Regions from separate parts of the Homo sapiens genome. Here region 2 is linked to region 1. The links come from fine-mapping of genetic effects on gene expression. A gene starts in region 1. The other region holds a variant in brackets. All regions are shown on one strand. Distances are from middle to middle.

The links.
Region 2: its variant is fine-mapped to the expression of NUBP1 in whole blood (TOPMed, PIP above 0.99).

What each region holds. Positions count from the first base shown.
Region 1 is chr16:10,737,529-10,753,242 of GRCh38, forward strand. It overlaps NUBP1 (NUBP iron-sulfur cluster assembly factor 1, cytosolic), which reads left to right and starts at 6,314. Exons shown (of 11, transcript NM_002484.4): 1 at 6,314-6,354; 2 at 6,433-6,537; 3 at 9,615-9,748; 4 at 15,082-15,150. The coding sequence starts at 6,336. RefSeq lists enhancers at 180-229, 6,123-6,172.
Region 2 is chr16:10,761,271-10,776,984 of GRCh38, forward strand. It overlaps NUBP1 (NUBP iron-sulfur cluster assembly factor 1, cytosolic), which reads left to right. Exons shown (of 11, transcript NM_002484.4): 8 at 94-204; 9 at 487-589; 10 at 6,679-6,762; 11 at 7,777-8,081. The coding sequence ends at 7,835. It overlaps TVP23A (trans-golgi network vesicle protein 23 homolog A), which reads right to left. Exons shown (of 8, transcript NM_001079512.4): 3 at 13,682-13,826; 4 at 12,769-12,858; 5 at 12,043-12,171; 6 at 10,400-10,528; 7 at 9,002-9,061; 8 at 5,405-7,831. The coding sequence ends at 9,002. Among named protein-coding and RNA genes, the nearest start is that of NUBP1, 25 kb to the left of the region's middle. The variant G/C (reference allele first, on the strand shown) is at 7,923.

The sequences.
Region 1 (15,714 bases):
CCACATCCGGCTAATTTTTATATTTTTAGTAGATACAGGGTTTCACCATGTTTGCCAGGCCGGTCTCAAACTCATGACCTCAGGTGATCCACCCACCTCGGCCTCCCAAAGCGCTGAGATTACAGGCATGAGGCACCACGCCTGCCCAGTTTCCCCCATTTTTAACATCTTGCATTAGTGTGGTACATTTGTCACAGTTGATGAACCAATATTGACACATTATTATTAAATAAAGCCCATGGTTTATATTAGGCCTCACTCTTGGTGTCGTACGTTCTATGGGATTTGACGAATGCATAATGACATGCATCCACCATTACATAGTCACACAGAGCAGCTTCCCTGCCCTAAAAGTTCCCTGGGCTCCCGTTTACCCCTTATCCCCTCCCACCCGCTGAACTCCTAGCAACCCTGATCTTCGGACTCTATAGTTTTACTAATTTATTTTTAAAATTATTTTGAAGTCTATTTAAATCCTTGGCACTTACTTAGCTTTGTAAATTTAACTTTCATTTTTAGTCATTATTCACCATCTTCAGTCAGAGGAACTGAAATAAAAAAATTTAAATTTAAATTTAAAATCTAGTCTTTCAAAATCACAGAACTAAGTAAGTGTAAAGGAAAATTACACAAAATTTCAAATGCTAATTTTTGTTAAGTTTATGGCATTCATACTTCGGAAGTTGTTAGAATGGAAAACCGTGCTCAGACTTCTGGAACGCAGTGTGTTCAGTTCCGCAGGCCAGGAATGGCCTCCATGGGGAGATGCTGCTGAGACTTGGCCTGTCACAGAGGACTGGGCCACAGCCAGATAGGCGAGAGACAGGCAGTGGCCTTTCCTGGCAGAAGGGCCTGTGTGAGTGACAGCAATGAACTAGGGTGCCAGGCAAAGGCCAGCTGTTTAGTGAATAGACTCGATATTCTCAGTGACACTCAGGCTGGAAGGGTCAAAATGAGTCATGCAGGCTACTGAACACCATATGAAAACTGGGCCTTATCCTGTGGGCCATAGGGAGCCACTGACGGTTTATGAGCAGCAGAGTGACTTGGTCTGATTTTCATGGGGAAAGAATGTTAAGACTGAGAAACAATTCAGGGAACTGTGGGAAACATCACTGTGATCCTGGATATCTGGTTTTCCTCCACTTCCAGTCATATAAAACTGTACTTCCTATACTTTTTTAGGCATGACCATGTGACTTTTTTTTTTTTTTGCGACAGAGTTTTGCTCTTGTTGCCCAGGCTGGAGTGCAGTGGTGTGATTTCGGGTCACTGCAACCTCTGCCTCCCAGGTTCAAGCAATTCTCTTGCCTCAGCCTCCCAAGTAGCTGGGATTACAGGCATGCGCCTCTGTACCTGGCTAATTTTTGGTATTTTTAGTAGAGACGGAGTTTCACACTATTAGTCATGCTGGTCTTGAACTCCTGACCTCTAGTGATCCAACCGCCTCGGCCTCCCAAAGTGCTGGGTTACAGGCATGAGTCATCACGCCCAACCTTTTTTTTTTTTTTCTGAGACAGAGTCTCATTCTGTCACTCAGGCTGGAGTGCAGTGGCACAATCTTGGCTCACTGCAACCTCTGCCTCCCGGGTTCATGCAATTCTCCTGCCTCAGCCTCCTGAGTAGCTGGGATTATAGGCGCACACCACCACACCCAGCTAATTTTTTGTGTATTTTTAGTAGAGACAGGGTTTCGCTATGTTGGCCAGACTGGTCTTGAACACCTGACCTGGTGATCCACCCGCCTCGGCCTCCCAAAGTGCTGGGATTACAGGCGTGAGCCATCGCGCCTGGCCTTTTTTTTTTTTTTTTTTTTTTTTTTAGACAAGGTGTCACTCTGCTGCCCAGGCTGGAGGGCAGTACTGTGATAACAGCTCATTGCAGCCTCCAACTCCAGCAATCGTCCTGCCTCGGCCTCCCAAGTAGCTGGGACTACAGGCATGCACCACCTTGCCCAGTTAATTTTTAAATTTTTTGTAGAGACAGGGTCTCACTATGCTGTTCTCCAACTCCTGGCCTCAAGCAATCCTCCTGCCTTGGCCTCCTAAAATGCTGGGATTACAGGTGTGAGCCACTGCACCTGACGTGTGTGACTAATTGTAGCCAATGAAAAGTGGGCAGATAGGTGTCATTTCTAGTGGAAGCATTTCAGAATCAGGGTACAATTCCCCTGGCTTGTGTCCTCTGTGTTCAAAAGGGGCCACAGGAGACGGTGGAGCTTCAGTCTGTGTCCCTGAGGAACCACAGGGAGCAGGAACCTCTGTCCATGAAGTTACATATGGAGCAAATGCCAAAATAAACTTGATTGCCTTGAGCCACTTCAGTTTGGGGATGTCTGTTTTGGCAGCGCAGACTAGCCTATCCTGGCTGAAACAGACACTGTTGCAGGACCAGGAGGAGGAGGGGGCCTGAGCTGAGGCAGGAGGGATGCTGGAAGGCATGGAGTGTCAGTTGTCTATAGCTACCCCAAACTCAACAGTGTCAAACCACCAGCATTTAGCTAGTTCACCAGCCTGTGCATTGGCCAGGTGGTTCTTCAGGACTCACGCATCTATGGCCAGTTGTGGGTCTGGATGGGTGGATCTGTGGGTCTGGATGTGTGGATCGGTGGGTCTGGATGGGTGGATCTGTGTGTCTGGATGTGTGGATCGGTGGGTCTGGATGGGTGGATCTGTGGGTCTGGATGGGTGGATCAGTGGGTCTGGATGGGTGGATCTGTGGGTCTGGGTGGGTGGATCTGTGGGTCTGGATGGGTGGATCTGTGGGTCTGGGTGGGTGGATCTGCAGCTCTTGGCTGGACTCTTCTCATGTGTCTTGGGCCGCTGGTTTAGGAGGCCTTCACTGAGAGCACAGGGGTGGCTCAGCTCAGTTCCAGGTGTTTCACCTCCCATGGGCGAGCCCAGACCTTCTCCTAGCCTGTGTACCTTTAAGTGGCAGGGGAGCTGGAGAGGGATTAAAACAGGCAAAAGCCCCATTACAAGCTTTTTCTTGAATCACATTTGCTAAAGTAAGTCACATGCCTGAGCACAGAGTCAAGGGGTAGGATGGAACCCCCTCCCCGCACGTGGGAGGGCACTGCAAAGTTCAGCAGCCAAGGGCACAGATCCAGACAGGGAGAGAAGTGGGGTCATGTGTGCTACCAGCCTACCACCTAGGGGTGCAGCTGCTGACCTGATGTCTGATTGGATGCAGGGGGTGCTGTGGGCGTCTCTATGGACAACACTGACCCCCATCCCTGTATAGGTACGCCACCCCACTAATCAACAAGAGGAGTCTGTGTCTGTGACACTTTGACCGAGAGAACATGGTGAAAGTGACTGCCACTTCCCAGCTTTGTCATTCCCAGCTGCCATTTAAAGGGACACAGGCTAGACCACTGAAAAATGAGAGAGGGAGGCCACGAGGGGGGAATCAAGGCCAGTGTGAGAGTGAAGCCATTTGAGACCTTCCAGCCAACTCCCAGCTGAATGAAGCCACATTAAGGGAGCCCAGGTGAAACCAGAAGAGTCACAGGAAGCAATAAACCATGGTGGGTTTAAACCACTACATATTGGGGTGACTTGTCACACAGCACTTGATCACTGATGGAGATGGAGAAAACTAAACAAGGCTGATACTCAGATTTACGGCTTGAGTTCTTAGCCCAGGGGTCATGCCCTGTCCAGGTATAACAAATCCAGAGGCAGGAACCGCCTTGAGAAGAAGTTGTAGACGTTTATTTGTTACGCTTGTGGGATGTCCATGCAATAAAATCCAATAGGCACAAGGTAGGATCCACAGATCCGAACTCACGGAGCAAGAGGTGTGGGAGCTGGAGACAGAAGATGGATAGCATCAGGGCTGTCAGTTGCTTGCCCAGGAGGAAGTGGGAAGTGGGACTGGAAGTGGCCCAAGAACAGAGTCTTGGGGAGCACTCACCTTAAGAAGCGGCCCTGGCCAGGCGCGGTGGCTCACACCTGTAATCCTAGCACTTTGGTAGGCTGAGGCGGGTGGATCACCTGAGGTCAGGAGTTCGAGACCAGCCAGGCCTACATGGTAAAACCCCGTCTCTACCAAAAATACAAAAAATTAGCCAGGCGTGGTGGTGGGCACCTGTAGTCCCAGCTACTCAGGAGGCTGACACAGGAGAATTGCTTGAACCCGGGAGGTGGAGGTTGCAGTAAGCCAAGATCACACCACTGCACTCCAGCATGAGCAACAGAGTGAGATTCCATCCCACAAAAATAAAAATAAAAAGGAGAATAACTTGCATCCTGCCCTCTAATATACAGTATAGTGATTAATAGCAAAGGCCCTGTATCAGACTTGGTTAAAAACCCAGTTCTGCTCTTTCTGCCTCTCAGACTGTGGACAAGTAAATCTTTGCAGCCATCTTATCACCTGTAAAACGGAAATGACAACAGTCCCTACCTGATAGGTGACTTCCTCTCTGCTCTCCAGGCCTTTGCTGATGCCCCATCACTCTGGTCCTCTTCTCCCGACCAGACTGTGCTCCAGATGGCAGGGTCCAGGTTAGTCTGGAATCATTGGCATCTAGCCCAGTGCTGGCTGGGACCATGTGTTACTAAGTGCAGGCTCTGCAGCCAGACAGACCAAGTTTATCACCCTGGTTCCCCTGCTACCAGTCATGCGACCTCGGGAAAGTAGTTTACTTTAAGCCTCAGTTTCCTTATCCAAAAATGGAGACAGTAGGACTATGAAAGGACATAAATTAGGTAATTCACATGAAAGCACAAAGATGACAGCTGCCAAACGGTAAGTATTCTACAAAATGCTGGCTATAATTAGTGGTAGTGACAGGCAGCTGATACACTGCTGTTTAATAAATGTTTCCGAGGCCGGGTGCGGTGGCTCATGCCTGTAATCCCAACACTTTGGGAGGCCAAGGCGGGCAGATCACGAGGTCAGGAGATCGAGACCATTCTGGCTAACATGGTGAAACCCTGTCTCTACTAAAAATACAAAAAATTAGCCGGGCGTGGTGGCCTGTAGTCTCAGCTACTCGGGTGGCTGAGGCAGGAGAATGACGTGAACCCAGAAGGCGGAGCTTGCAGTGAGCCGAGATCCCACCACTGCACTCCAGCCTGGGTGACAGAGCGAGAATCCGCCTCAAAAATAAATAAATAAATAAACGTTTCCATATTCTTAGTGTCTGGGGCTAGGTAAAGTTTGTTCACTCATTAATATTCCAGGTGCCAAACCTGTGAGCAATGACACTCCAGTAGCAATGAGCATTTGTGGCATCCACATCTTGGTTTCTGAACTGTTGTCTGCTAAAAAGTAACCAAGGCTCCCTGAAGAAATGACTGCAGCAGGGAGAAGGGATGACTGAAACATCTTGTATCAGAAAGCAAGAAAATGCTCAAAGAAGCTGGATTAGTGCCCAAAGAACATAAGAACTGTCTTGAAGGGGCTTCACTGGCCACATCTGGGGGAAAAAAAATCGACCAGAAAGAATAATAATTGATTATAAAAGACAATTTTAAAAAATCCAGGAATCCATAGTGAGTCTTCGAAAAAAAAGAAAAAAAGAGAGGGTATAAAACTGATATATATTTATCATATATATAATCTATAGTTTTATATATATATATATAAATGCTGCTAAAATCACTGAGTGAAAGGCTGATAGAGAAGAAGATGGTCCCAGAGAGTACCTGTTAATTACAAATGGAAGAAGGAAACATTAAATGGAGAAATGGGGCAGACACCACCTTTAGCAAGCGATCAAGCTTCACATTACCAAAAACGGGACAAACTGACATTATCCAAGTGTGTTCTGCAGGAAAAAAGAAAAATTAACCTTTATCTAATTACAAGGCAAGAGGGAGGGGAGGATTAGACAAATCAAGAATATGGGATATTCTATTACACAACTGGTCTGGACCCGTCAAAATTATCAAGGTGATGAGACCCCCCCTAAAAAAAGAAGGACTGATCTGAATTAAAGGAGACCGAAGAGAAATAACTCCAGGCAGTGAGTGAATCCAGCAGGGGAGGGGGTCTAACAACTGAAATTGAAATATAAACTGTCTATTGGCTAATACTGCATTGGCTAGTACTGCATCGATATTAAATCTCTTGGGTATGAAAATGGCACTGATGTCATGAAGAATGGCTTTGTTCTTAGGAGATGCACTGCAGAAGTATTTATGATAGGAAATCTCTGAAAAGGAACAGACGTTGAGTCCCAGTCTTTCGGCCCAAGGTTCGCGCGTGCGCACAGCCCCCTTTCCGAGACTTATTTCGCGCGGTCGGAGAATCAGATTGTGCCCACAAGGCGGAAATGTACGACAGCGGGTTCCGGTGACCACGAAGGCGGCAAAGGCGACGGAATGGAGGAGGTGCCTCACGGTAAGCTCGCGGAGGGGGCGTGGGTCGCGGGGCGAAAGTGTCGGGAGCTGCTCTAACTGTGGTCTTGTCTCTGCGCAGACTGTCCAGGGGCCGACAGCGCCCAGGCGGGCAGAGGGGCTTCATGTCAGGGATGCCCCAACCAGCGGCTGTGCGCTTCTGGAGCGGGGGCCACTCCGGACACGGGTGAGAAAAGGGCAAGGCCTCAACAGGAACTTAGAGGCGCAGGCCCGGAAAAGGCGGGGCGTGGGAGGGAGGGGGCGGGATCTGCAGAATGACTGACAGCGGCAGGCTAGAAGGTATTGTATTCGGAGAGGGGTGGGGCCCAGAAGGGGCGGGGCGTGGAAAGTGGGCAGGGTGAGGGCGGAGCTTGGAATGACTGACAGGAACGAGGCCTTTAGAAGGCGAGCGCGAAGGACCTGGCGCGGATGGAGGGTGGAGACTGACCGGCGCGGAGTCGAAAGGGACATTAATTAAGAGGGTCGGGGCCAGAGGTTTGAGTGACAATAACAGACCGCAGAGAAAAACGGGATAAGCTTCGAAGTCGGGGAGTCTTCGGACTTACATCCTGGCTCTGCCAGCTACTTTCTTGACACAATTTTCTTCCTTTTGAGGAGTGATTCTCCCACTCATTCAGCAGAAATGTGTTGATCGCCTCGTAGGTTTGGTGCTGTCCTGGGGACACAGCTGGGGATCAGGCGTGGTCACTGCTCTAGTGGAGTTTAGCTTTACTGGGGAAACAAACACGTGAGCTAGCAACTAAACCACCGCAGCTTTAAGTGCTGTGAAGCACAGATTCCAGGATGAGAGGACCCAGGGAGCCTGCTCAGAAGGACCTTAAAAAGCAGGAGGCAGGAGGACAATATTTTTTTTTCTTTTTTTTCCCCCTTTTTTTTTAGACAGAGTCTTGCTGTGTAGCCCAGACCAGAGTGCAGTGGTGTGATCTCGGCTCACTGCAACTTTCACCTCTCAGGTTCAAGCGATTCTCGTGCCTCAGTCTCCCGAGTACCTGGGACTACAGGCGCCTGCCACCACGGCTGGCTAATTTTTATATTTTTAGTAGAACCAGAGTTTCACCATGTTGACCAGGTTGGTCTCGAACTCCTGACCTCAAGTGATGCATCTGCCTGGGCCTCCCAAAGTGCTGGGATTACAGGCATGAGCCACTGCACCTGGCCAAGGGGGAGAATCTTGAAGGAGTTCAGAGAGAGACTTGGATTTGATTCTTGGATCCATGCGGTGTGACCTTCAGCAATAGTCCTAACCTCTCTGAGCTTCTGGTTCCTCATCAAAAATGGAGACAGGCCGGGTGCAGTGGCTCACGCCTGTAATCCCAGCACTTTGGGAGGCCGAGGCGGGTGGATGGATCACTTGAGGTCAGGAGTTCGAGACCAGCCTGGCCAACATGGTGAAACCTGTCTCTACTAAAAATACAAAAATTAGCCAGCATGGTGGTGCATGCCCGCCCTCGAGGCTGAGGTGGGAGGATCACTTGAACCCGGGAGGTGGAGGTTGCAGTGAGCTGAGATCGTGCCACTGCACTCCAGCCTGGGTGACAGAGTGAGACCCTGTCTCAAAGAAAAAAAAAAATGAAGAGAAAAATAGTTATCTCTGTCAATGCAATGGAGAGACTGAACTGAGCCTCAGTGGAGGTTTATTGGGCCAGAGCTTGAGGGCGTGCCCTGGAAAATACAAGTGACAGAAACATCTGTGGCCTGTGCTCGATGGAGTGGTTCCAGAAGGCTGGTGTTTATATATTTCATTAAAAGGGGAAAAAGCATGCAGGAAAAAGTGCAGTAGGCCTCGTGGCAGGTAGTTACATTCTTGTGAGGTTTTAATTCGTGCCCAGTATATCTACACTATTCAGAAAATAAAGTAAACATTCAAAAGAGGGAATAAAGGAAGAATTAATTAGGCAGACGTCTCAGGGTAGGAGAGGAAGGACTATCTCATCCCATCTTTGTTTGGCATGTGGGAGGATAAGCTTGTAATGGACATGGTCAGTGTGGCGTTTAACAGACATCAGTAATAGGGAAGGAGTTAGACTGAGGTTACAGTCCTAAAGTTACAGTTGGCATGTCCTTGTTTATGGGAGGATACTCATCTTCAAAGATTTAGGGGCCAGCAAAGGAGTTCCTTAGGAGCAACTTGTGAGGGCAGTCATCCCACAATGGATTGCATGGGGCCTTTGGCCTTTTGCAGGTGTCTGGTTAATGTAGAATGCTTTGACACAAGGTTGGGAAGTAACAGCTGTCTGTTGATGGGGAGGAGGACAGCAGTGTTGGGAGGTTTCCAGGCTTAACTTTCACTTGAGTTTGGCCAGTCATGAGACTTTTTAATTTCCTTTATACCTCGTGTATTGTTTTAAGGATTTGAAATAAGATAGTTTCATTGGCAGATACTTAGTATGTGCCTGCTGTCTATCAGAGTTTCTCAACCTCAGCACTGCTGACATTTGGGGCAGGATCACTCTTTGTTGTGGGGGGCTGTCCTGTGCATTGTAGGACATTTAGCACAATCTGGGCTGTACCCATTAAATGCCAGCAGTACCTCTCCTGTGACAATGAAAAGTGTCTCCAGGCTGAGCATGGTGGCTCACACCTGTAATTCCAACACTTTGGGAGGCCAAGGTGGGTGGATCACTTGAGGTTGGAAGTTCGAGACTAGCCTGGCCAACATAGAGAAACACCGTCTCTATTAAAAATACAAAAATTAGCCAGGCATGGTGGCAGGCACCTGTAATCCCAGCTACTTGGGAGGCTAAGGCAGGAGAATCGCTTGAACCCAGGAGGCAGTGTTGCAGTGAGCCGAGATCACGCCACTGCACTCCATCCTGGGCGACAGAGCAACACTCTGTCTCAAAAAAAAAAGAAAGAAAGAACAGTGTCTCCAGACATTACCAAATGTCTCTGGGGGATTTTGTCCCCAAGTTGGTGACCATTGCTGTTTGCAAAGTTCTCTTCTGGAGCTGGGAATACAGCACTGAAAGCTTCAGACAGTTCCTACCTTTGTGGAGACTATGTTCTAGTTGGGGGAGACAAACGTGTAAACCAATAAATGAGACCCCTTCAAGTGTGATAATAGCCTTATTTTCTTCCTAGCACTTATTTCTACCATTGTCTGAGAGGTATTTCAGAGGATCGTTTTAAACAGCCCCAGGACTAGTACTAGGACTAGGACTTAGCTCTTTCTAGTTGACTGGAAGCGTGACATTCGAGGTTTGGTGTGGGACCTCATCCCCTGAACTTTGGTTTTCTTTGCAGCTATAGAGGAAATCAAAGAGAAAATGAAGACTGTAAAACACAAAATCTTGGTATTGTCTGGGAAAGGCGGTGTTGGGAAAAGCACATTCAGCGCCCACCTTGCCCATGGCCTAGCAGAGGATGAAAACACACAGGTGAGACCTCAGGAACCACTGGGAGATGCTCATTTTGTCTGAGGGTCGTGATGGCTACTAAATAACTGATTCCTAGGCCAGGCGCAGTGGTTCATGCCTGTAATCCCAGCACTTTGGGAGGCCAAGGCGGGCAGATCACTTGAGGCCAGGAGTTTGAGATCAGCCTGGCCAACATGGCAAAACCTTGTCTCTACTAAAAATACAAAATATTAGCTGGGCGTGGTAGCGCAGGCTTGTAATCCCAGCTTTTCGCGAGGATGAGCCATGAGAATCGCTTGAGCCCAGGAGGCAGAGGTTGCAGTGAGTCAAGATTGTACCAGTGTACTCCAGCCTGGGTGGCAGAATGAGACTGTCCAAGAAGAAAAAAAAATGATTCCTTATACTAAGTTGAATTGGCCTCTTTGGAATCTCAATCCGGCAGAGAGCAAAGAAATGCCCAGTAGTCAAATGAAGCATTTCACTGGATTCCCTAGCCAAGAAAATGGCTAGCAGATGTACATCTGTCCTTGCATGTGGATAGTTTATTACATTACGTTCACGCTTCTTTTTCCTCTTTATTAACCCCTTTTAGCTTTTCTCTAAGCCAGGGACCTGCAAACTATAGCCAGTGGGCCAAATCCAGCCCATCTCCTGCCTTATGGCCTTTGAACTAAGAATGTTCACATTTTTGAAATGTTTTTTGTTTGTTTGAGACAGGATCTCACTCTGTCACCCAGGCTGAAGTGCATTGCTATGATCAGGACTCATTGCAACCTCTACTTCCTGGGCTCATCAAGCTATCCTCCCACCTCAGCCTCTCAAGTACCTGGGACTACAGGTGCTTGCCACCATGCCCGGCTAATTTTTGGGTTTTTTGTAGAGATGAGGTTTTGCCATGTTGCCCAGGCTAGTCTTGAACTTCTGAACTCAAGGCGTCCCCCTGCCTCGGCCTCCCAAAGTGCTGAGATTATAGGCATGAGCCACCGTGCCTGGCCTAAAATTGCAATTTTTAAATTAGTACCTAAGTACCTACATATGATCCTTGATTTTGCCCACAAAGCCTAATAATATATTTGCTGTTGGCCCTTGTGGAAAATTTTTGCTGGCCCTTACACGAGTTTATTCATTTCCACCCATGCATACAGACGAGCATGAAAACTCAGATTACCCACTGCTGCCCTCTGGATCTCAACTTTAATAAAAGGGGTTGGTGGGTCGCTAAGAGCACACACTCTGGAGTCAGACAGCCCAAACTCAGGTCCCAGCTCCATCTACACCACTGCTGTGACCTTGGGCAAGTTACCAGGCTTACTCTGCCTCCGTTTTCTCATCTATAAAATGGGACTCCAAGGACTGAGTGAGATGGCACAGTAAAGCACTTAGCACGGGGCCCGACGAATAGTCAATGCTCAGTAAAGGTCTGTGATGGCCACCATTTTTATTACTTTATTTCACTCTCTGGATATGAAGGGATGATGATTACATCTGCCTTAGAGATGAGTTTGTAGCCTACCCAAGGTATAGTACTGGGCAGATTCAAAATACACTTGTTGGGCAGGGCATGGTGGCTTACACTGTAATCACAGCACTTTGGGAGGCTGAGGCAGGCGGATCACTTGAGGTCAGGAGTTTGAGACCAGCCTGGCCAACATGGTGAAACCCTGTCTCCACTAAAAAATACAAAAATTAGCTGGGCATGGTGGTACGTGCCTGTAGTCTTAGCTACTCGGGAGGCCGAGGCATGAGAATCGTTTGAACCCAGGAGGCGGAGGTCGCGGTGGGCCAAGATTGCCCTACTGCACTCCAGCCTGGGTGACAGACAAGACTCCATTTAAAAAAAAAAAAGGATATAGATAGATACACAGACACATACACACACACACACACACACACACACACACACACACACACACACGTTGATTCGTCATTCTGTGAGTCAGCGATCTCTTGCCATTTGAGGGTCAAATCTGTACTGGCCTAGTGGGCTGGCCAAGAAATCTGCTTTCTCAGATTGTCTGTATCGTTTAGAAGAATCTTTGCTTTTCGAAGCTGTCAGGAATATTCCTAAACAGCTCACTGGAGATGGGCTTTCATCTCACCACTTGCAAGTAACCACTTGTGAGTAGACAACTGTTTACATCCTTCACTTTCATGTAATTACGTTCTGAAGTCTTTGCTGCATGCCTGTCTAGACTTTGCAGTATACAGAAGGAAAGCACACCATTCAGTGTGGAAATATGGCTAGATCAGCTGTATTTTTTTATGCAGTGGTGGTTTAAAAAAAAAAGAAGTCAGCATTTAGGAAAGTGTGTTTTCCCCAGGCAGACCTACTCATGACAGTGACATCACTATCTGCAAAGTGTCAACACATGGAAAATGCTGAATATGTCTTGATTAAAGTCAAGCAGCACAGATTTCTCCCTGCCCTAAATCCAGCAGGGTGGTGGGACATGCCCTGACCTTTTTCTGCCTGCCATCTGGTGGAAGCTTGGCTCTAACTCTGTGCAAGACCATTCCATGTTAGCGCTTGAGGCAGGCAGGCGCCTGTCATCTCATTGGCACAAAGGGCCTTGGATCAAGAGAGAGCAGAATTAGAAAACACCCCTGACGAGTCACAGGCTGCCCAGGGAGTGTGTAAGTTGTGGTGAAGGCAGAAGGAGCCTCTGTAGCATAAGCCTGAGCCATGAGACAGCCAAGAGTCATACACTGTCTTCCACTGCAAAAGTCACCGACTCCCAGCCTGGGCTTCAAAGTGAGACCCCTGTCTCTACAAAACATAAAACATAAAAAAAGTTAGCCAGGTGTGGTGGTAAGCACCTGTAGTCCCAGCTACTCAGGAGACTGAGGTAGGAGGATCACTTGAGCCTGGGAAGTCAAGGCTGCAGTGAGCCGTGATTATGCCACTGCACTCCAGCCTGGGCAACAGAGTGAGACTCTACCTCAAAAACAATGAATAAATAACAAGTCACCAACTTCCATAAATTAAACTTTTTTTGTTTGTTTTTTTGAGACGGAGTCTCATTCTTTTGCCCAGGCTGGAGTGCAGTGGTGTGATCTCAGCTCACTGCAACCTCCACCTCCCGGGCTCAAGCAGTTCTGCCTCAGCCTCTGGAGTACCTGGGATTACAGGCGTGTGCCACCACACCCAGCTAATTTTTGTATTTTTAGTAGAGACAGGGTTTCACTATGTTTGCCAGGCTAGTCTCGAACTCCTGACCTCAGGTGATCCGCCTGCCTCAACCTCCCAAAGTTCTGAAATTATAGGCGTAAGCCACCACACCCAGCCACCATAAATTAAACATTTATGATCTTTGTGATCTGAAAGGCAAACTGTCATAACAAGGTCAGCACTAGGTGTTTCAGGACTGAGTGTGCGAGGCCCTCCTCTGGGTCCTGGGACTGCAGAGCTGAGAGGGGCCTTGATGACCCCGGAGCAGTTGTCTCACAGATCAGAAGCCCAGACAGCCAAGGCTTCGAAAGCAGAAGCAACTTGTGCAAGGACTAAAAGTTAGGACTAAATCCCTCTTCCCCTACCCTCCTCATCAGGGGCAGTTTGGGGTGCTGAGTAAAGGAGACGCTTTGGGTCCCGACAGCCTTGCAGCATCTCCACCTTCTGCAGCAAACGCGGCCTCTTCCCATCAGCTGCAAACACAGGCCCAGAGGTCCTGCTGGGAGGAACGCAGGCGCATTGCTCTCAGCTTTGCTTTTCTGGCCTAACCTAAGCAAAATTAAATGGACAGATTTTGGGGTAGTAATAAGATCAACAGGAAGTCTGAACAGACAGGACCCAGGGCCGTCCTGGCCATCTGGGTAGCAGGAGCTTGTCAACAGCCTCTCGGGCCTGCCACGGGAGTGAGAGAGTGCGCTGGATCTGCTTCTCATATCCTTACATCATTTCGCTCAAGATTCACTCCCCAAGGGAGTGAAATTCCTCTAAAGGGAATTGATTAAATTGTTCCCTAAAGGAAGGGCATGGAGACAGAGTCACTAGAAACCTGAGAGTATCGAGGAAAGTCTCTATCACAGTCATAGTGATAGTGTCATTTCCCCGTGGATCATTGACACATCAGTCCCAAGTATCAAGGTCCGGAGAGAGCAAGTCAGGTTTTCCGATGATGTCGCTCTGCTGTTCTCCCCGGATGGCTCCATAGAGGGCACCTGAGGCCAGTGCTGGTCTGTGGATGGCGTTTTCCCGTGCACAAGTTTGAGACAGCGCTGGGTGCTGAGGAAGTAGGAGGCTGGGTTTGTTGAGAGGATTGAAGAGGGTGGCAAGAAACTAATTCAGGGCAAGTTAAAAAGTGACGCGGAGGTGCAGCACTTTGGATCCGAGTCATTGCAGCTTTCAAGATGAATACTAGCCCTGTTCTCAGAAGGTTCCTGAAGGCCGTCTCAGACCTCCTGTATCAGAGGGGAAGGCTTGGGGTGGAATGGGGTCGCCTGAAGCTGCACCTGAGTCACAACTAAAGAGCTTTTCCAGGTTTCCATCTTACTTTAAGTTTCTGTTCTGTAAGTTTAGCCTAAACCATCATTCACCTTCAGGATCAAAGGAAAACAGGGCTTGGTCAGGGTTCAGCTAGAGGCTCCACTCTGGTCCTCCACAGCAGGCCCGTGGTGTACTGGAAAGAGCCCCAGTTGGGGCCGAAAGACCTCAGTTTATGTCCCAGCTCTGTTCCCTGCTTATTGAACTGGTCCCCTCTGAACCTCAGTTTCCTCCTCTGTAAACCAGAGATAATGATACTTACCTTCTAGGCACATGGCCGCCTCAGCCTCCCAAAGTGTTGGGATTACAGGCGTGAGCCACTGCACCCAGCCCCCAATATTTTTTAATACATTCATATTCTGCTTAAATAGTCTAGATTTGGCTTGTATCTGAGACTCCTGAACAAGATAGGATGAGTTTGAGAAAAATTTAAGATGCAGAGACCAAGGCTTGGTGAGGGGTGAGCAAAAGAGAGCTGTTTAGGGTGGCTCCAACACTGCCGTCTCTTGGCTGTTCCATCCATTCTGTCACACAAGCCAAACAGGCGCTAGGTCCCTTTCCCCGTCTCCTCCAACCAGGGCTCAGTAAACAAGGTCTGAGCCCGAGCCTCCAAGTGACCTGACAGCCAGGTCTGTAAGATCACCCTTGAGGAGCTCAGCCAGGCTGAGGGGTAGGGGAATGGGGGCATCAGTGTTTATGAACCTTGAGATCAGCGTTAGGACTCTCCCTCAGGAGAATCTGATGGCTCCAAGTTTAACCCAGTTTCTGTCTTCTCCCCTGTCCTTTTCCTCTAACCCCGCTCCCCTCCTAGTTGTGTGTGTCTGGAGTGTGTGCATTCAGTTATATAACCGCTTTGGTCTCTTCTTGTCCCCAGATTGCTCTTCTAGACATCGATATATGTGGGCCATCGATTCCCAAGATAATGGGATTGGAAGGAGAGCAGGTAATAGCCGGTTACAGAACTCAGGAAATTATTCTCTTAAGGCAAACTCTGTAGCACTGAACTGTCAAACCTCAACAAAGAGGCATGCGGAGCCCATAAATGTTTTTTTGTTGTTGTTTTGTTTTGTTGTTTTTGAGACAAGGTCTCACTCTTGTCGCCCGGGCTGGAGTGCAGTGGTGCAACCTCAGCTCACTGCAACCTCCACCTCCTGGGTTCAAGCGATTCTTGTGCTCAGCCTCCTGAGTAGCTGGGACTACAGTGGTGTGCCATCATGCCCAACTAATTTTTGTATTTTTGGTAGAGACCAGGTTTCACTACGTTGGCCAAGCTGGGCTCCACCTCCTGACCTCTAGTGATCACCTGCCTCAGCCTCCCAAAGTGCTAGGATTACAGGCGTGAGCCACCGCACCTGGCCTGTAAATGTTTATGTGGACATGAGGAGCTCATACATGCTCAGTAGTCCATCTGTCTACTTTTAACAACAACTGTGAGTCTTGGCGGGGGAGGGGCGGGATTGTATATGAAGTCTGTCTACACCATTGGAGAAGCATTGGTTTCGATGCC
Region 2 (15,714 bases), 24 kb after region 1:
AGATCCACTGCATTGCAGCCATCCCCTCGGTTGCACAGACATTCCCTTTCTCGCACTTTGATGCTGGAATCACTGGTCTTTTCACCTTCGTAGGAGGTGTCACTCCAGGATGTCCGGAAAGAAATCAACTTCTGCCGCAAGGTGAAGCTGCCCATCATCGGGGTGGTGGAGAACATGAGTGGCTTCATCTGTCCTAAGTGCAAGGTGAGGGCGCGTGGGGCTGCCAGGCGAGCAAGATCTTGCTCTCATGGATGAGGAAACGATCGGAAGGCTGCTCTGCAAACTATTTCTGCTTTCCCTGTCATTTTGGGAAGTGGAATCACAATTAAAATCCCTTTCTGCTGACTAAAGGAAAGTTCTTTAGGTGTTAAGGGTTCCACATTCAAACTAAGCCTTTTTTTTTTTTTTAAGTTTCTTTAAAATGTGGTCCATCCTTGTGATTCTGCAAAAAAATTATGTTTCCTCCCCTTTGAATTTGCCTTGCAGAAAGAATCTCAGATATTCCCTCCCACAACCGGGGGCGCGGAGCTCATGTGCCAGGACTTGGAGGTCCCTCTCCTCGGCAGAGTGCCCCTGGATCCGCTCATAGGTGGGTGACCCCAGTGTGGGGCGGCACCTCACTCCTCGGTCAGCCCCACAGGCACGGGTCGGGCACAACAGGGGGCGGCTACAGAGAGGGGCAATGGAAGGAGGAGGGTCAATGGGGCGCTGGAGCCAGACCCACCCTCCAGCTGGCACCCCAAGAGGCCACCGGGAGAGAGGCCGAGACCCCTGCGGGCAGGTAGCGGGAGCAAGCAGGCCTCAGGCAGAGGGGTGAGGCCTGGAAGAATGGGGTAGAGGTTGGTGAGGGTGGTGGTGGCAGGGGACTGAGGAGGGCACCCGATAGAGGGGCGGCTCCAGGGGATGCACATGGCGTCCAGGTTACAGAGGAAGGCGGCCTGAGGTGAAAATCCCTTAGGAAGGGGCCGGGCCTCCTGTGCCCGGAGAAGCCAGCACGGCACAGATGAGGCCCCTTTGTCTCCAGCACCGGGACAGACCGGAACGCGGATCACTGGCCTGCGAGCAGGGGCCAAGTTCCCAAAAAATGCTCTTCTTAAGTACGTGGGTCTCCCAGGATCCCAAGAGATGCCCACTCCCTGAGTGGCCCTGAGGCTGAAGGAGGGACGGGGTTTCACGTCTCCACCCACACGCCCGCCGGGCGCCCACTCGCCGCGGGGCGCTGGGCAGGGCCTACACTCGAAGCTGCTCCCCCAGGAGGCTGCTGTCCCCCAGGACCGCGGAGCCGGGCGGGCCTCCGTTACTGGGGCCCTTTAGTGGGGCTCCTGCGGGGCGTCCAGCACTCGCCTTTAGGTCTGAGGGGAGAACAGAGAGAGAAGGCTGGAGGGGAGGCCGGGATCCAGGAGTGCCGGCTGCACCCATGCCTCGGAACTTCCACTCCATTTGTCAGGGAACCAAGGCCAGTGTGAGGTGTCTGTGCCGGGACAGGAGAGAGGGGCCGGGCGGGTGAAGTATGGCCTGGCCAGGAGAGGGTGGGGGCCGCGTGCTTGGGGAGAGGGCGGGGCCCGTGGAGAGCCTGGAGGCGGGGAGGGCGGAGGCCACGTGGGGAGCCTTGGGGAAGGGCTGCATGGGGAGAATGGGAGCCTGTGGGAAACGACTGTCAGTGTCATGTGCCTGGGAACAGGAGGCTCAGGAGTGGCTGCCCTGGGATAGGGGTTCAGGATGAGGCCCTGGGTTCTGGCGTTGGTGTAGAAAGGAAGGGACACACACAAGAGAGAAAGTGACGGCATCTGAGGGTCAAGGTTGTCCCTGCTGCCAGTACAAGTCACCTGGAGGAGGGTCCGTCCCTCAGAGACAGTGAAGCAGGGGTGGTAGAGGGAGGCCGGGCCCTCTGGGGTGCTGCGGCTAAGGGGCTCGGGGGCTCAGGTTGTCAGCAGGTTCTGGGGTCCGTCAGGAGAAGGTGGTTCATGTCCGTGCAGTTGAGTTTTGAAGCCACAGGACATGGACAGGATTGCCAAGGGGCCGTGCAGAAAGCGGGAGCCAGGAGGACAGTGTTGGGGGATGGCTGCCTCGAGGAAGTGGTAGGGGGGTAGGGTGCGAGGGCCACTCTGAAGATGGGAACAGCCCGGGAGAACGCCAGAGACCCCATGTGCCCAGGAGGCTGTGTCCCCAAATCCTTTTTCCCTTATTCCCACATCCCACAATACTTCTCTGGCATGTGATTTCCCCAACAACATGCAGAAAAGTACAGCTGCTTTCTCAACCTTCCCCAGCATCATAAAACACTCACCAGGCAGCTTTTGCAGTGGCCGGAAGTGGTGATGAGAGCTGCCCTCTGAGGCCCCTGGAGGCAGTTGGGCTGCATGAATGGATGTGATTGGGGACAGGAGCTTGCAGCAGCCCAGGGCACATCCATTCCTGCCAGCCTGCACCTCTGCCACAGTTCAGCTCTGCCGAGATGGGATTGGTGGGCAGGACGTTTGTCAGGGGAAACATCTGTGGGAGAAAATGACAAGGGAGAGCGTTAGCCCACGATGAAGGAGTGGGGGAAGGAACATATCAGCCCGAAAGAGCATCACGGCCCATAGGAGTATCTCAGCCCCTGGAAGCATCTCAGCCCAAGGGAGCATCCCAGCCCTCAAGAGCATCTCAGCCCATGGGAGCATCCCAGCCCAAGGGAGTATCTCAGCCCACAGGAGTATCTCAGGCCACGGGAGCATCCCAACTCAAAGGAGCATCTCAGCCCACAGGAGTACCTCAGCCCATGGGAGCATCCCAGCCCAAAGGAGCATCTCAGCCCACTGGAGCATCCCAGCCCAAGGGAGTATCTCAGCCCACAGGAGTATCTCAGCCCACGGGAGCATCCCAACTCAAAGGAGCATCTCAGCCCACAGGAGTATCTCAGCCCACGGGAGCATCCCAGCCCGAAGGAGCGTCTCAGCCCACTGGAGCATCTCAGCCCATGGGAGCATCTTAGCCTGCTGGAGCACCTCAGTGTACTTTGCTTTTTGGCATCTCAGTCTGCTGGAGTATTTGTCTATTGGAGCATCTCAGTCTGCTGGAGTGTGGCAGTCTATTGGAGCATCTCAGTCTGCTGGAGTATGCCAGTCTGTTGGAGCATCTCAGTCTGCTGGAGTATTTGTCTATTGGAGAATCTCAGTCTGCTGGAGTATGCCAGTGTGTTGGAGCATCTCAGTCTGCTGGAGTATGTCAGTCTATTGGAGCATCTCAGTCTGCTGGAGTATTTGTCTATTGGAGCATCTCATTCTGCTGGAGTATTTGTCTATTGGAGCATCTCAGTCTGCTGGAGTATGTCAGTCTATTGGAGCATCTCAGTCTGCTGGAGTATGTCAGTCTATTGGAGCATCTCAGTCTGCTGGAGTATGTCAGTCTATTGGAGCATCTCAGTCTGCTGGAGTAGGTCTATTGGAGCATCTCAGTCTGCTGGAGTATGTCAGTCTGTTGGAGCATCTCAGTCTGCTGGAGTATGTCAGTCTGTTGGAGCATCTCAGTCTGCTGGAGTATGTCAGTCTGTTGGAGCATCTCAGTCTGCTGGAGTATGTCAGTCTGTTGGAGCATCTGTCTGCTGGAGTATGTCAGTCTGTTGGAGCATCTCAGTCTGCTGGAGTATGTCAGTCTGTTGGAGCATCTGTCTGCTGGAGTGTCTTGGCTGCTGTCGAGGAAAGCTGGGCACAGCCACCAGGGCATTCCTGAGCCCACTTACCCATCAGAGGGGCTGCATCTCCCAGAAGCGTGCCTGCCCGAGTGCCATGCTCGTCTCAGTCACTAGCTAGGAGCAGCCTGGGAGTGGCATTGCCTCAACACAAACGTGGTGGTGGATTTTGGAGCATGGCAGCTGCTGCCAGAGATCCAAGAGGTGTGTCCTTATGGCCATCACAATTGCCACATTTTCCAAGGTTTAATGAAGAGCTAGAAATCTATATCCTTACCCAAAGTCTCCTGATACTAAATGATAGCAACTAACTCCATTAAATACACACACACACACACACACAACCATGCTCTAGCCTGGGTAACACAGGAAGATACCTCATCTCTTAAAAAAAAAAAAAAAAAAAAAAGGAAAAAATTCACCCAGTGTGGTGGCATGTGCCTGTGGTCCCAGCTACTCAGGAGGCTGAGTTAGCAGGATCACTTGAGCCCAGGGAGGTTGAGGTTGCAGTGAGCCATGATCACACCACTGCACTCCAGCCTGGGCGACAGAGCAAGAACCTGTCTCAAAAAAAAATTTAAAAATGGCATGCTTGCTGACCCACCCAAATATGTCCACGGGCCCAGCCACAGGCCTGCCCTTGCCATTGTCTGACAGATCAGGAAGTGACCTTGGGGCTATTAGATCCTGATACGGCTTTTCTTCCAAAGAGCCAGCAACCTCCATCTTCCCACCTCCCTCACACCAAGCCCTGGCATTGGCCCTGGTCTTTCCTTTCAGGGCCACTTTTCACAAAGAAACAAAGTTCCAGGTGGTTCACAAGAGCTAATTTCAAAGCAGAGGAGCCACCAGTGACAGCTGCGAGGCTCATTCTGAGCTGAGAACATTAAGTGCCTTCTAGTGGGCATGGTCCTGTGTGTCAAATGGCACATTGCAGAAGCTCACCTTGAGGGGAAGCCACAGATAGCAAGGCCAGGGAGTGCCAGAAAGGAAGGGGTGGTTAACACTGTCACCCACCCAAGAGGGTGGAGCATGAGGGCCAAGTGACAGACACGCATCTGGCAAGGTCACTGGGGACAGAGTGGGGGAAAACCCACCTTCCTAGGAACAGACAGGAAGGCATGAGGACAGCACTTCAGTCTCCTCTGGGGACATGGTGGCAAAGAGTTACAGATGCCAGCGCTCTGGTGCTATGGGTCCTGGTCCCGGTGTGCTGAGGATCACAGGAAGGGCTGGCCTCAGAGCCCTGCTCCGCCACCACTAGCTGTGGGACTTGGGCTAGTCATTTCCGCTCTCAGCCTCGATGGCCCCGTGTGTAAAATGCAGGTGACAGTGGTGCCTAGTGAGAGGGATCTGCCAGGGTGGGGTGAGAGGATGCCTGGGATCTCTTGGAACAGGGCTGTGCTCACACCAGCTGTTCTGATAATGCTGCCCGTTCTTGGAGAGGTGGGAGCCCAGGGGGAAATGCAGTTAGGAAGGGAAAACACTAGAGCATATATGTGTGTTGGGGGCTGGGGAGCCCTCTGGGGAAGGGAGACCTGGGTGAAAGTCAGGGACAGAAAGTAGCCCCAGCATGACTATTCTGGGATCCCCAACCTCCCAGGTCTGGCCCAGCGAACGTGCACTCAGGGGCCTCCCTAGCGAGTTCCACATGGTCTCATGGGCCCAGCGTTAACGGCGGAGGATGTCCAGGTTCTTGGTGTCTGGAACAAAAAATTGGACAAAACGCACAAAGAAAGGAAGGAAGGAAGGGATTTATTGAAAATGAAAGTCAACTCCACGGTGTGGGAGGAGAACGGGCCTGAGAATAGGGGCTCAAAGGCCCCATTACAGAGTTTTTGTGTTTAAATACCCTCTACTTGAGGTACGCCCTATATAAACGAAAAGGATGAAGTAAAGTTACAAAGTCATTTACGGCATACGTCCTATGGAGAGGACATTTCCTGTTATGGCTCAAGTGCGAATTGGCCTTATGTTCCCTGCCTCTGGACCCTATTTTCCTGACTCACTGGGCCATATGGGCTCCCCATCTCCCACCAACCCCTCCCCACAGGCTTCTTCCCCGACTTGGACTTCCCTGTCCCACAGGGCGACACAGTAGTGAAGTTGAGGAAATGATGAGTGCTAGGTAGGAACCCCTCCTGGGGTTCACCTGAGGCTGGTGACCGGCCATGGGCAGTGCAGTCACTTGCCTGTTTCGCCAGCAGCTCAGGCCTGGGGAGTGGGCAGAGCAAGCTGATGGCAGGTCCACCCACGACTGGGGGCTGGCAGGGCAGACTGGAGGCGAGAACACCCCCATTGACCCCTAGCCCCTTGTGTCCTGTCCACCTGGCTCTGGGATAACATGGTCCTAGAGAAACCTGGGTGTGCATAGGAGGGGACTGGAACAATGGCCACATGGCGGGGAAAGACTAGCAGACTGATAGACACCAGCACAGATGACCTGGAAGATAAAATTATACACAGACAAAGCAGCAGGCAGAATGTGTGTGTCATGTGCTCCCATTCGTATTTTAGGTATATGAGAGTGTGTGTATGTGTGTGCGCACACATGCAAGTGTGCACATTTATATGCGCATAATCTTTCTGGAAAGACACCTAGAACACTAGTAGCCCTTTTCGGACTTGGCCTTTTATGCCATATCCTTTTGCATTCTGTACTTTTTTTAACCATGTGCATTCATGATCCTTTCACTCAAAAGCTAATCTCTTAAAATGCAGACTCCTGGGCCCATGTGGAAGCTGCTGAATCAGTTCTCTGTAGGGCCCTGGAACCTGCATTTTCTGTACACCACCTGATTATTTAGCCACGCTGAAATGCTGGCTGGGGACCCTGCTGGAAGGAAGGTCCCTGAGACCCCACTGGTCTTTTCTACTTTGTTCTTCATTACGAGTGAAGCGGGCTCAAGATCTTCCCATTGTCACCAGCACGGAAAGAGCCCCAAGATCTTGTGGCCATTCTGTTTTCCTCTTGGACTGAATTGTCTTCCGTTTGTTTCTTTTTTAAGGTAAGAATTGTGACAAAGGCCAGTCTTTTTTCATTGACGCCCCAGATTCCCCAGCCACGTTAGCCTACAGAAGTATAATTCAGAGTAAGTATTTCCATGAGTACTAAATGCAGATGCCTGTGGGGCAGGAAGCAACATAAAGGAGCCAGGGGTGTGGAAGGACAGGTGGGTGGTGGGGTCTGTGATGACCACAGAGTGGCCCCCATAGCCGAGGAAGCCAGGAGTCCATGAGAAATCTCTCAATGTGTGAGTATTGTGAATTAATTCATAGTTTAAAAAACATGGTGAGGGTGAAATTTATGGCTTAGGAAATACATCCCAATAAAGGGATAAAGTAATTCATTTTTAAAAGTAACTGATAAAAAAAAAAAAGGCCAGGTGCAGTGGCTCACACCTGGAATCCCAGCACTTTGGGTGAAGGAGGCAGGCAGATCACTTGAGGCTGGTCAGGAGTTCAAGACCAGCCTGGCTAACATGGAGAAACACTGTCTCTACTAAAAATATGAAAATTAGCCGGGTGTGGTGGCGCATGCCTGTAGTCCCAGCTACTCAGGAGGCTGAGGCAGGAGAATCGCTTGAACCTGGGAGGCGGAGGCTGCAGTAAGGCGAGATCGCGCCACTGCACTCCAGCCTGGGCAACAGCGTGAGACCGTGTCTCAAAAAAATAAAAAATAAAAATAAAAACTTTGTTGAGCCAGACCAAACCCACGTGCAGGCCACATTCAGCCAGTGGCAGCCATCAGAGGCCCCAGAGTTAGGGCAGAGGTGTCAGTGTTTGTTAAAGCTGTGGTCTCTGAGTTTGTGGCTGGGTTTTACTTGCCTAGAAGAATGATGTCAAGGGTAAGGAAACAGCATTCCCAGAATCCTCCATCTATAGATGGTCCGAGGAAGGCCGCAGCCACTGGTTATGAGCAAGATGGGTAGTGTGAGGTATTCCGGTCACTTTCAAAGACTCAGGGCATCACAGACACAGGTCTTTTTATGGAACTAGCCAGAGGATTCCACCCCTGTCAAAACACAGCCCTCCCCAGCACAGGACAGGGCTGTCAAGGGGTAGACAAGCCATTAGCACTCTATGCCTGTCGTCTTGTTTTCCAGGAATCCAAGAGTTTTGTAATCTCCATCAGTCAAAAGAAGAGAACCTCATCAGTTCCTGAAACGAGAGAATGTTCAGGACCAAGCAGTTACCGAGCGAGGCACTCACTGGGCAGCACATCCAGCCAGACCCGACCAGCTCCGGGATG[G/C]GGTGGGTCACAGCAAAAGGACCAGATGCTGGTGTGGTCCGAAGCCACTTTCTCAGAGACACTTTAATCATTGAGTATTTGTACACTTTTCTTTAGAACATATATAAAGGGCATTCTCTACAAATGTGCCGTTTTAAGAATAAAACCCCCTCAAATCTCTCCCCCGAGGCCTGTTTCACGTAAAAAACAAATGGGTTGTGGGATCGTGGGATTCTGCTGTGTCGGAAGCTTAGTCGATTGTAGAAACTCCCGTTTAAGCCATTTCTGCCTGTGAAGATAAGAAAGCCTAGAAAAGAACCAAAGGGGTGAGTGTGCGGCTTCACTGCAGAACACACAGGCTTGTTTTCAAACACCACAGTCCAAACGCTTTTCTTCAGATTGAGGAAAAATCTAAAAGCAACAGAGCTCAGGCTGGGCTTCGTTCTAAAATCACTGCATATGACACAGCTGGGTCAAATCAAAAAGCCCTTGAAGAGTCCTTGAATCACCCAGTAAGACAGAATGTGGGGTCTGTGTAAATTCCCTGTGTAGTAATATGTGCACAGTATATCCAGTAATGTCCAGTGTCATGCAAACCAACTTTCAGGTTTTTTAATTATATAAAAAAGAGGGACAGATGTAAACTCTACGATCATCCTCTTTGCCATGAGGTGCTTGCTCTGTTTGAGACACACAGGATCTGAGACCACGTGGGAGAAGAGTAAATTCCTGTTTTCCCTCCACTCTGGGGCATAAAAGTGGGTGGGTGGGAAACAAGAACAAATCCCCTTGTTCTTTCCCTCCCTTGTCTCTTCCCTCCCCGCCCTTCCCTAGGACCATACATATGATCAGATTTGCACATGTTCAGTGTGAGGAAGGTGTGACCTCGCCCCCCGACCCCCAGCTCCTCACGCCAAGAGCAATGAGGCTGCAAAGCCCAGGGCAGGCCCATTGCCCAGTCTGCTTCCTGCCTGGTCACATGCCTGGCCACCCCAGGGAACAGGGGAAGCCCACCCAGACCCCGGGCCCCTGTGCCCCAAGAGCTGCATTTTTCAGAATTCCCCAGTTCCTCCACACGGGTGCCATGATCCATTTCTCACCTAATGCTGGTGAATCTCCAGCCCCTCGAGGCCAGGCTTCTGAAAGTCACCTGGGCAGGCCTGCAAGGGGAAAAGTCAACCATGGTTTTCTGTCCTTACACGCGAGTGGGGCGATCCTGCTGATGGAAGGCCAGAGAAAACCCACAAAGTACAGAAAACCTGCGGAATTGGTTGCTTGATGTCTTGGCATAAAGCAGTGCTGTTCAAATTTAGGACGGTTCTACCCATTTCAGGATGAACCTGGTCAAATTTCAAAGACTTCTGTCTCTCACTTTTAGAAATATCTATTAAGTTAAAAAAAAAAAACAAAACAAAAACAAGCTGGGCACGGTAGCTCCCGCCTGTAATCCTAGCACTTTGGGAGGCCAAGGCTGGTAGATCACTTGAGGCAAGGAGTTCGAGACCAGCCTGGTCAACATGGAGAGACCCCGTCTACTATAAATACAAAAATTAGCCAGGCATGGTGTTATGCACCTGTAATCCCAGCTACTTGGGAGGCTGAGGCAGGAGAATCACTTGAACCCGGAGCCGGAGGTTGCAGTGAGCCAACACATGCCATTGCACTCCAGCCTGGGAGCAGAGTGAGACTCCCATCTCAAAAAAAAAAAAAAAAAAAAAAAAAAAATTGAAAAACCGTTTGTGACTCTTTCCTTAATTCTATACTTTTAAAAATCACTGAAAACTAACAATGGCAGTCACAAAAGGACAAAAACTATAATTGCACTTATAGGAGGTCCCTAGGGCTGTCAAACCAATAGATACAGAAAGCAGAATGCTGGTTGCTAGGGCTAGGAGGCGAGGAGGAGGGGGAGTTAGTGTTTTGTGGGTACTGAGCTTAAGTTTTGCAAGATGAAAGCAGTTCTGGAGCTGGGTGGGGTGAAGGTTGCACAATAAAGTGGTTATACTTAATGCCACAGAACTATACATTTTAAAATGGTTACAATGGTACATTTTATGTAAATCTTACAATTAAAAAACAAAACTGCCAGGCACAGTGGCTCACTCATGGCTGTAATCCCAGCACTTTGGGAGGCCAAGGCAGGCGGGCTGCTTGAGCTCAGGAGTTCTAGAGCAGCCTGGGCAACATGGCAAAACTTCGTCTCTACAAAAAAAAAAGGCCAGGCATGGTGGTACACACCTGTAGTCCCAACTGTGCCAGAGGCTGAGGTGGGAGGATCGCTTGAGCCCAAGAGATGGAGGTTGCAATAGGCCGCGATCACACCATTGCACTCTAGCCTGGGTGACAGAGCGAGATCCTGTCTCCCAAAAAATATATAAACAATAAAACATTGGCAGCCTGGCGGATATGTTACATTACAAACCGCAGTTGCCAGCAGGCCACCTTGACTTTGACTACCTGGAGAGGAGTGGTCCAAGAGTCAGACCTCAGTTACTCACCGTCTGGAACACTGTCTGGGACAGGAAACTGGCTGTGACCTTGCCAATGTCACTGTTGCCTCCCATCTTACAAAGGATGTAGCCATACAGGTTTGCAGCTTGGAGAGAGATCCCAGCAACCACCAGAGCCTGCACTCAGACAAAGAAAGCAAAGGTCACTTTTTTTTGAGACAGAGTTTCGCTCTGTCGCCCAGGCTGGGGTGCAGAGGCACGATCTCAGCTCACTGCAAGTTCCGCCTCCCGGGTTCACACCATTCTCCTGCCTCAGCCTCCCGAGTAGCTGGGACTACAGGCGTCCGCCACCAGGCCTGGCTAATTTTTTTGTATTTTTAGTAGAGACACTGTTTCACCATGTTAGCCAGGATGGTCTCCATCTGACGCAAAGGTCACTTTCTAAGAGCATTTACAGAAATGCACCTCTCAAGCCACGTAGAAATGCTCTAGCCTGCACCTAAGAATAGTAACAGCCAACATTTACTGAGCATTTGCAAATACCCACGGACACCTCAGAATCATTACAACTGGAGAGGTTGCCACCATCATCATCCCATTTTACAAAGAGGAAACTGAGGCTCAGGAAGACGAAAGCTGCCCAAGGTCACAGAGCTGGAGCGTGGTCGAGCCGGGATCCAAATTCCAGGGCCCGCACTTTCATTAAATGACACTGTTGTTTTACTATCTACAAATATTTTGTTTTCTCTATTTATTGATTTTTTTTAAGACGGAGCCTCACTCTGTCACCCAGGCTGAAGTGCTGTGGCACGATCTTGGCTCACTGCAACCTCCGCCTCCTGGGTTCAAGCGATTCTCCTGCCTCAGCCTCCCAAGTAGCTGAGATTACAGGCGTGTGCCACTACGCCCAGCTAATTTTGGTATCTATAGTACAGACAGGGTTTTGCCATGTTGGCCAGGCTGGTCTCAAACTCCTGACCTCAGGTGATTCACCTGCCACAGCCTCCCAAAGTGCTGGGATTACAGATGTGAGGTACTGTGCCAGCCTGTGTGAGTCCATTTATATGAAATGCCCAGAATAGGCAAATCCACAGAAACAGAAAAATTAATAGGTGCCAGGGCTTGGAGGAACAGAAGCACAGGGAAGCAATGTCAAAAGGGCGCAAGGCTTCTTCCGGTGATGAAAATTTCCTAACATTGATGGTGGTTTTGGCTGTACAACTCTGTGACTGCACTAGAAGCCACTGAATTCCACACTTAGTATTTATTTTATTTTTTGGAGACAAGGTCTCACTCTAGCACCCAGGCTGGAGTGCAGTGGCACAATCTTGGCTCACTGCAACCTTTGCTTCCCGGGCTCAAGCGTGCACACCATCATGCCTGGCTAATTTTTGCATTTTTTGCAGAGATGGGGTTTTGCTATGTTGCCCAGGCTGGTCTCGAACTCCTGAGCTCAAGCAATCCTTCCACCTTGGCCTCCCAAAGGCCTGGGATTATAGGCGTAAGCCACCATGCCAAGCCCCTAATTGTATACTTTAAATGGGTAAATTGTATGGAATGTGTATTATATCTCAATAAACTTGTTATAATTGATCAATCAATCAATAACAAATAACAACAAAAGCCTAGTGGTGCAAACACTTTTTTTGCAGAGACATCAAAGCAATGTGGAAGTCAAGATCTGGCCTTACCAGCCACTTTAGCTTCAAGGAAAATAAGGTGCTAAAAAAAAACACAATCCATATCATGGGGCAGATTATGAGGCCCAGCCAGAAGATTCGTGCTTCAGCTTCTGTGGCAGCAATGCTATTCGGAGAGACCTGTTAAAGGAAAGTAATTCAAATGTCAAAACAAGTGGAAATGGTTGCAAACGAGCGTGCTCACATTTTCATTTATTTTATTTTGCAGATGCTTTTGTTGCTGTGGGATTTTTTGTTGTTGGTGTTGTTTTGTTTTGTTTTGTTTTTGAGACAAAGTCTCATTGTGTCACCCAGGCTGGAGTGCAGTGGCGTGATCTTGGCTCACTGGAACCTCCGCCTCCTGGGTTCAAGTGATTCTCCTGCCTCAGCCTCCCGAGTAGCTGGGAATACAGGTGCCTGCCACCACGCCCAGCTAATTTTTGTATTTTTAGTAGAGACAGGGTTTCACCATGTTGCCCAGGCTAGTCTCAAACTCCTAACCTCAAGTGATCCACCCACCTCCGCCTCCCAAAGTGCTGGGATTGCAGGCGTGAGCCACCACGCCCGGTCTATTTTGGAGACACTTTTGCCACACCCATGTTTCACCAGAGCACCTTGGCAATGGTGGCTTTTGTGTAAGGCAGGAATCAGATATGCACAAAACTCCAAAGGAACCCACAGAAACTTTCCACACCCATTATCCCCGCTCTGGTTAGTTCAGCTCGTCATGGAGAATACCTTCCTGGCTTCAAAGATCCAGTGGCTCTTCCCATCTTCATCTATCTGGTTCCACCATCGAAGGCCCACCAGGAGTCTTCCGGTTACATTCTGAGAACAATAGACAAAGGACTCTGAGCAGGTCACAGGCAAAGAGGCTTATTCACTGTATTGATAAACAAAAGTTCCTTGATTCATTTCAGACTTGTACTGGGAGCAGGAAGAAAAAAGGCCTTGAATTGTAGTGGATTCTCAGATGTCAAGACTTCTAGTTTTCAACTAAGCTTACTTTAAAAAGTTACACACTCCCCCCACAAAACATATATAATTTATATGTTCATATTATATATGTTTTAAATATATGTATTAATTCGTATACAAGTGATATGGTTTGGCTGTCTCCCCACCCAAACCTCATCTTGAATTGTCGCTTCCATAATTCCCACGTGTTGTGGGGGAGACCGGGTGGGAGATAATTGAATCATACAGGCAGTTTCCCCCACACTGTTCTCATGGTAGTGAATAAGTGCCACGAGATCTGATGGTTTTTATAAGGGAAACCCCTCTCACTTGGCTCTCATTCTCTCTCTTTTTTTTTTTTTTTTTTTCCGAGACAGAGTTTGACTCTTGTCACCCAGGCTGGAGTGCAATGGCACAACCTCGGCTCACTGCAACCTCCGCCTCCCGGGTTCAAGTGATTCTTCTGCCTCAGCCTCCCAAGTAGCTGGGATTACAGGCACACACCACCGCGCCAGGCTAATTTTTGTATTTTTAGTAGAGACGGGGTTTCTCCATTCCCCTTACTTTTAAGTGACACTGCTCAGCACTCTTAAGCATGTCTCAGGAGTCTAAACCAAAGTACCTCTTGGTACCACGCACACAGGGGACAAGCCTCGTGTTTCGGAAGTGATGACATCACACGAAAGGGCCTCACCTTCACAGACCAGAAGTCCAGGGACAGGAGGAGCAGCACCATGACAAAACAGCCCACAAAGCTCTTGCTGAACCAGTCGCAGCTCACGTAGGTGACGATGGCACTCACTCGGAAAAACAGGTGGAAAAAGGTGGCCAAGGGGTGTCTAGGAAAGGACCCAGAAGGCGCCCTCACTCCAAGAGCTAAGCGGATGGTCACTGAACTCCCTTTACCACTTCAGACTTTGCTGGGGGTGTTAGCGTGGCTCAATGGAATGTTCTCCCCGGTGCATATGACGCAGAAACTCAGGCTGTAGCCCTGGGGACACATCATTAGGTCAGCAGTCCCCAGACAGTCATGCTGACACTGTTTTTTTTCCTCCCCTTCGAAGAATCCAGTACTTTCCCGCCACTTGACTCCAAATATCACTTGCCCTCTTCGAAACACGGTCATCTTTGAAGTGAAACGTGACAGCAGTCACTGCCTTCCCGCCTAGCAGAGATGACGGCCAGTTCCCTAAAGGTAAAGGTTGGGTTTTTCCACCACCAGTCACTGAGCTCCAAGCTCACACGCAGCCCACGGGGCAGGTGTCTCATGTCATCGGGGAATGCGTGTTCCTGGACAGAGGGAAACATGTGACCTGTGAATGGCAGGTCTAACTCATCATACTTGCTCAGTGGTGAATGGCACGTGAATCCTGGCATTTAATCTAGGGGAAGGTGGTTCTTGTTCACTGTGCCTTTAGACACAAACCTGGCCAGAAAGAAGAGAGGGAGCCAAGGGGAACATGCTCATCCTGTGTAAATTGCTTTTCTTTTTTTTTTTTTTTTTTTTTTGAGATGGAGTCTTGCTCTGTCCCCTAGGCTGGAGTGCAGTGGCGTGATCTCGGTTCACAGCAACCTCCACCTCCCGGGTTCAAGCAATTCTCCTGCCTCAGCCTCCCAAGTAGCTGAGATTATAGGCGCCTGCCACCACGCCCAGCTAATTTTTGTACTTTGAGTAGAAACAGGATTTCAACATGTTGGCCAGGCTGGTTTCGAACTCCTGACCTCAGGTGATCTGTCCACTTTGGCTTCCCAAAGTGCTGGGATTACAGGCATAAGCAACCACGCCTGGCCTTATTTTTTTTATTATTATTATTTTTTAATGTAAGTCTGATATAGGCCAGGCACGGTGGCTCACACCTGTAATGCCAGCACATTGGGAGGCCGAGGCGGGCGGATCACCTGAGGTCAGGAGTTCAAGACCAGCCTGGCCAACATGGTGAAACCCCATTTCTACTCAAAATACAAAAATTAGCTGGGCATGGTGGCGGCTGCCTGTAACCCCAGCTACTCGGAAGGCTGAGGCAGGAGAATCACTAGAACCTGGGAGGCGGAGGTTGCAGTGAGCCAAGATCACGCCACTGCACTGCAGCCTGGGTGAGAAAGTCAGACTCCAACTCAAAAAATAAAAAAATAAAAAAATAAAAACAAGAAAAGAAAGGTTACCAAATTGTATAGAGCAGGTGATGGCAGTGGGTGATGTGGGCCAGACTGAAGACACTTGTGGGTTTCTGTTTCTTTCTGTGGTTTCCCAGTTTAAATAGAGCACACAGGTAGAGAACGATACTCAACTATGATCAGGAAATCAATGGCACGAGCCCAGTTGTTATACCAGAAAGGGTTTCAGATCCAGACCCCAAGAGAGGGTTCTTGGATCTCACCCAAGAAAGAATTCAGGGCAAGTCCATTGAGTAAAGTGAAAGCAAGTTTATTTGGAAAGTAAAGGAATAAAGAATGGCTAGTCTATAGATAGAGCAGTCCTAAGGGCTGCTGGTTGCCCATTTTTATGGCTATTTCTTGATGATATGCTAAAGAAGGGGTGGATTATTCATGCCTCCCCTTTTTCGACCATATAGGGCAACTTCCAGACGTTGCCATGACATCTGTGAACTGTCATGGTGCTGGTGGGAGTGTAGCAGTGGGGACGACCAGAGGTCACTCTCATGGCCATCTTGGTTTTGGTGGGTTTTAGCCGGCTTTTTTACTGCAACCTGTTTTATCAGCAAGGTC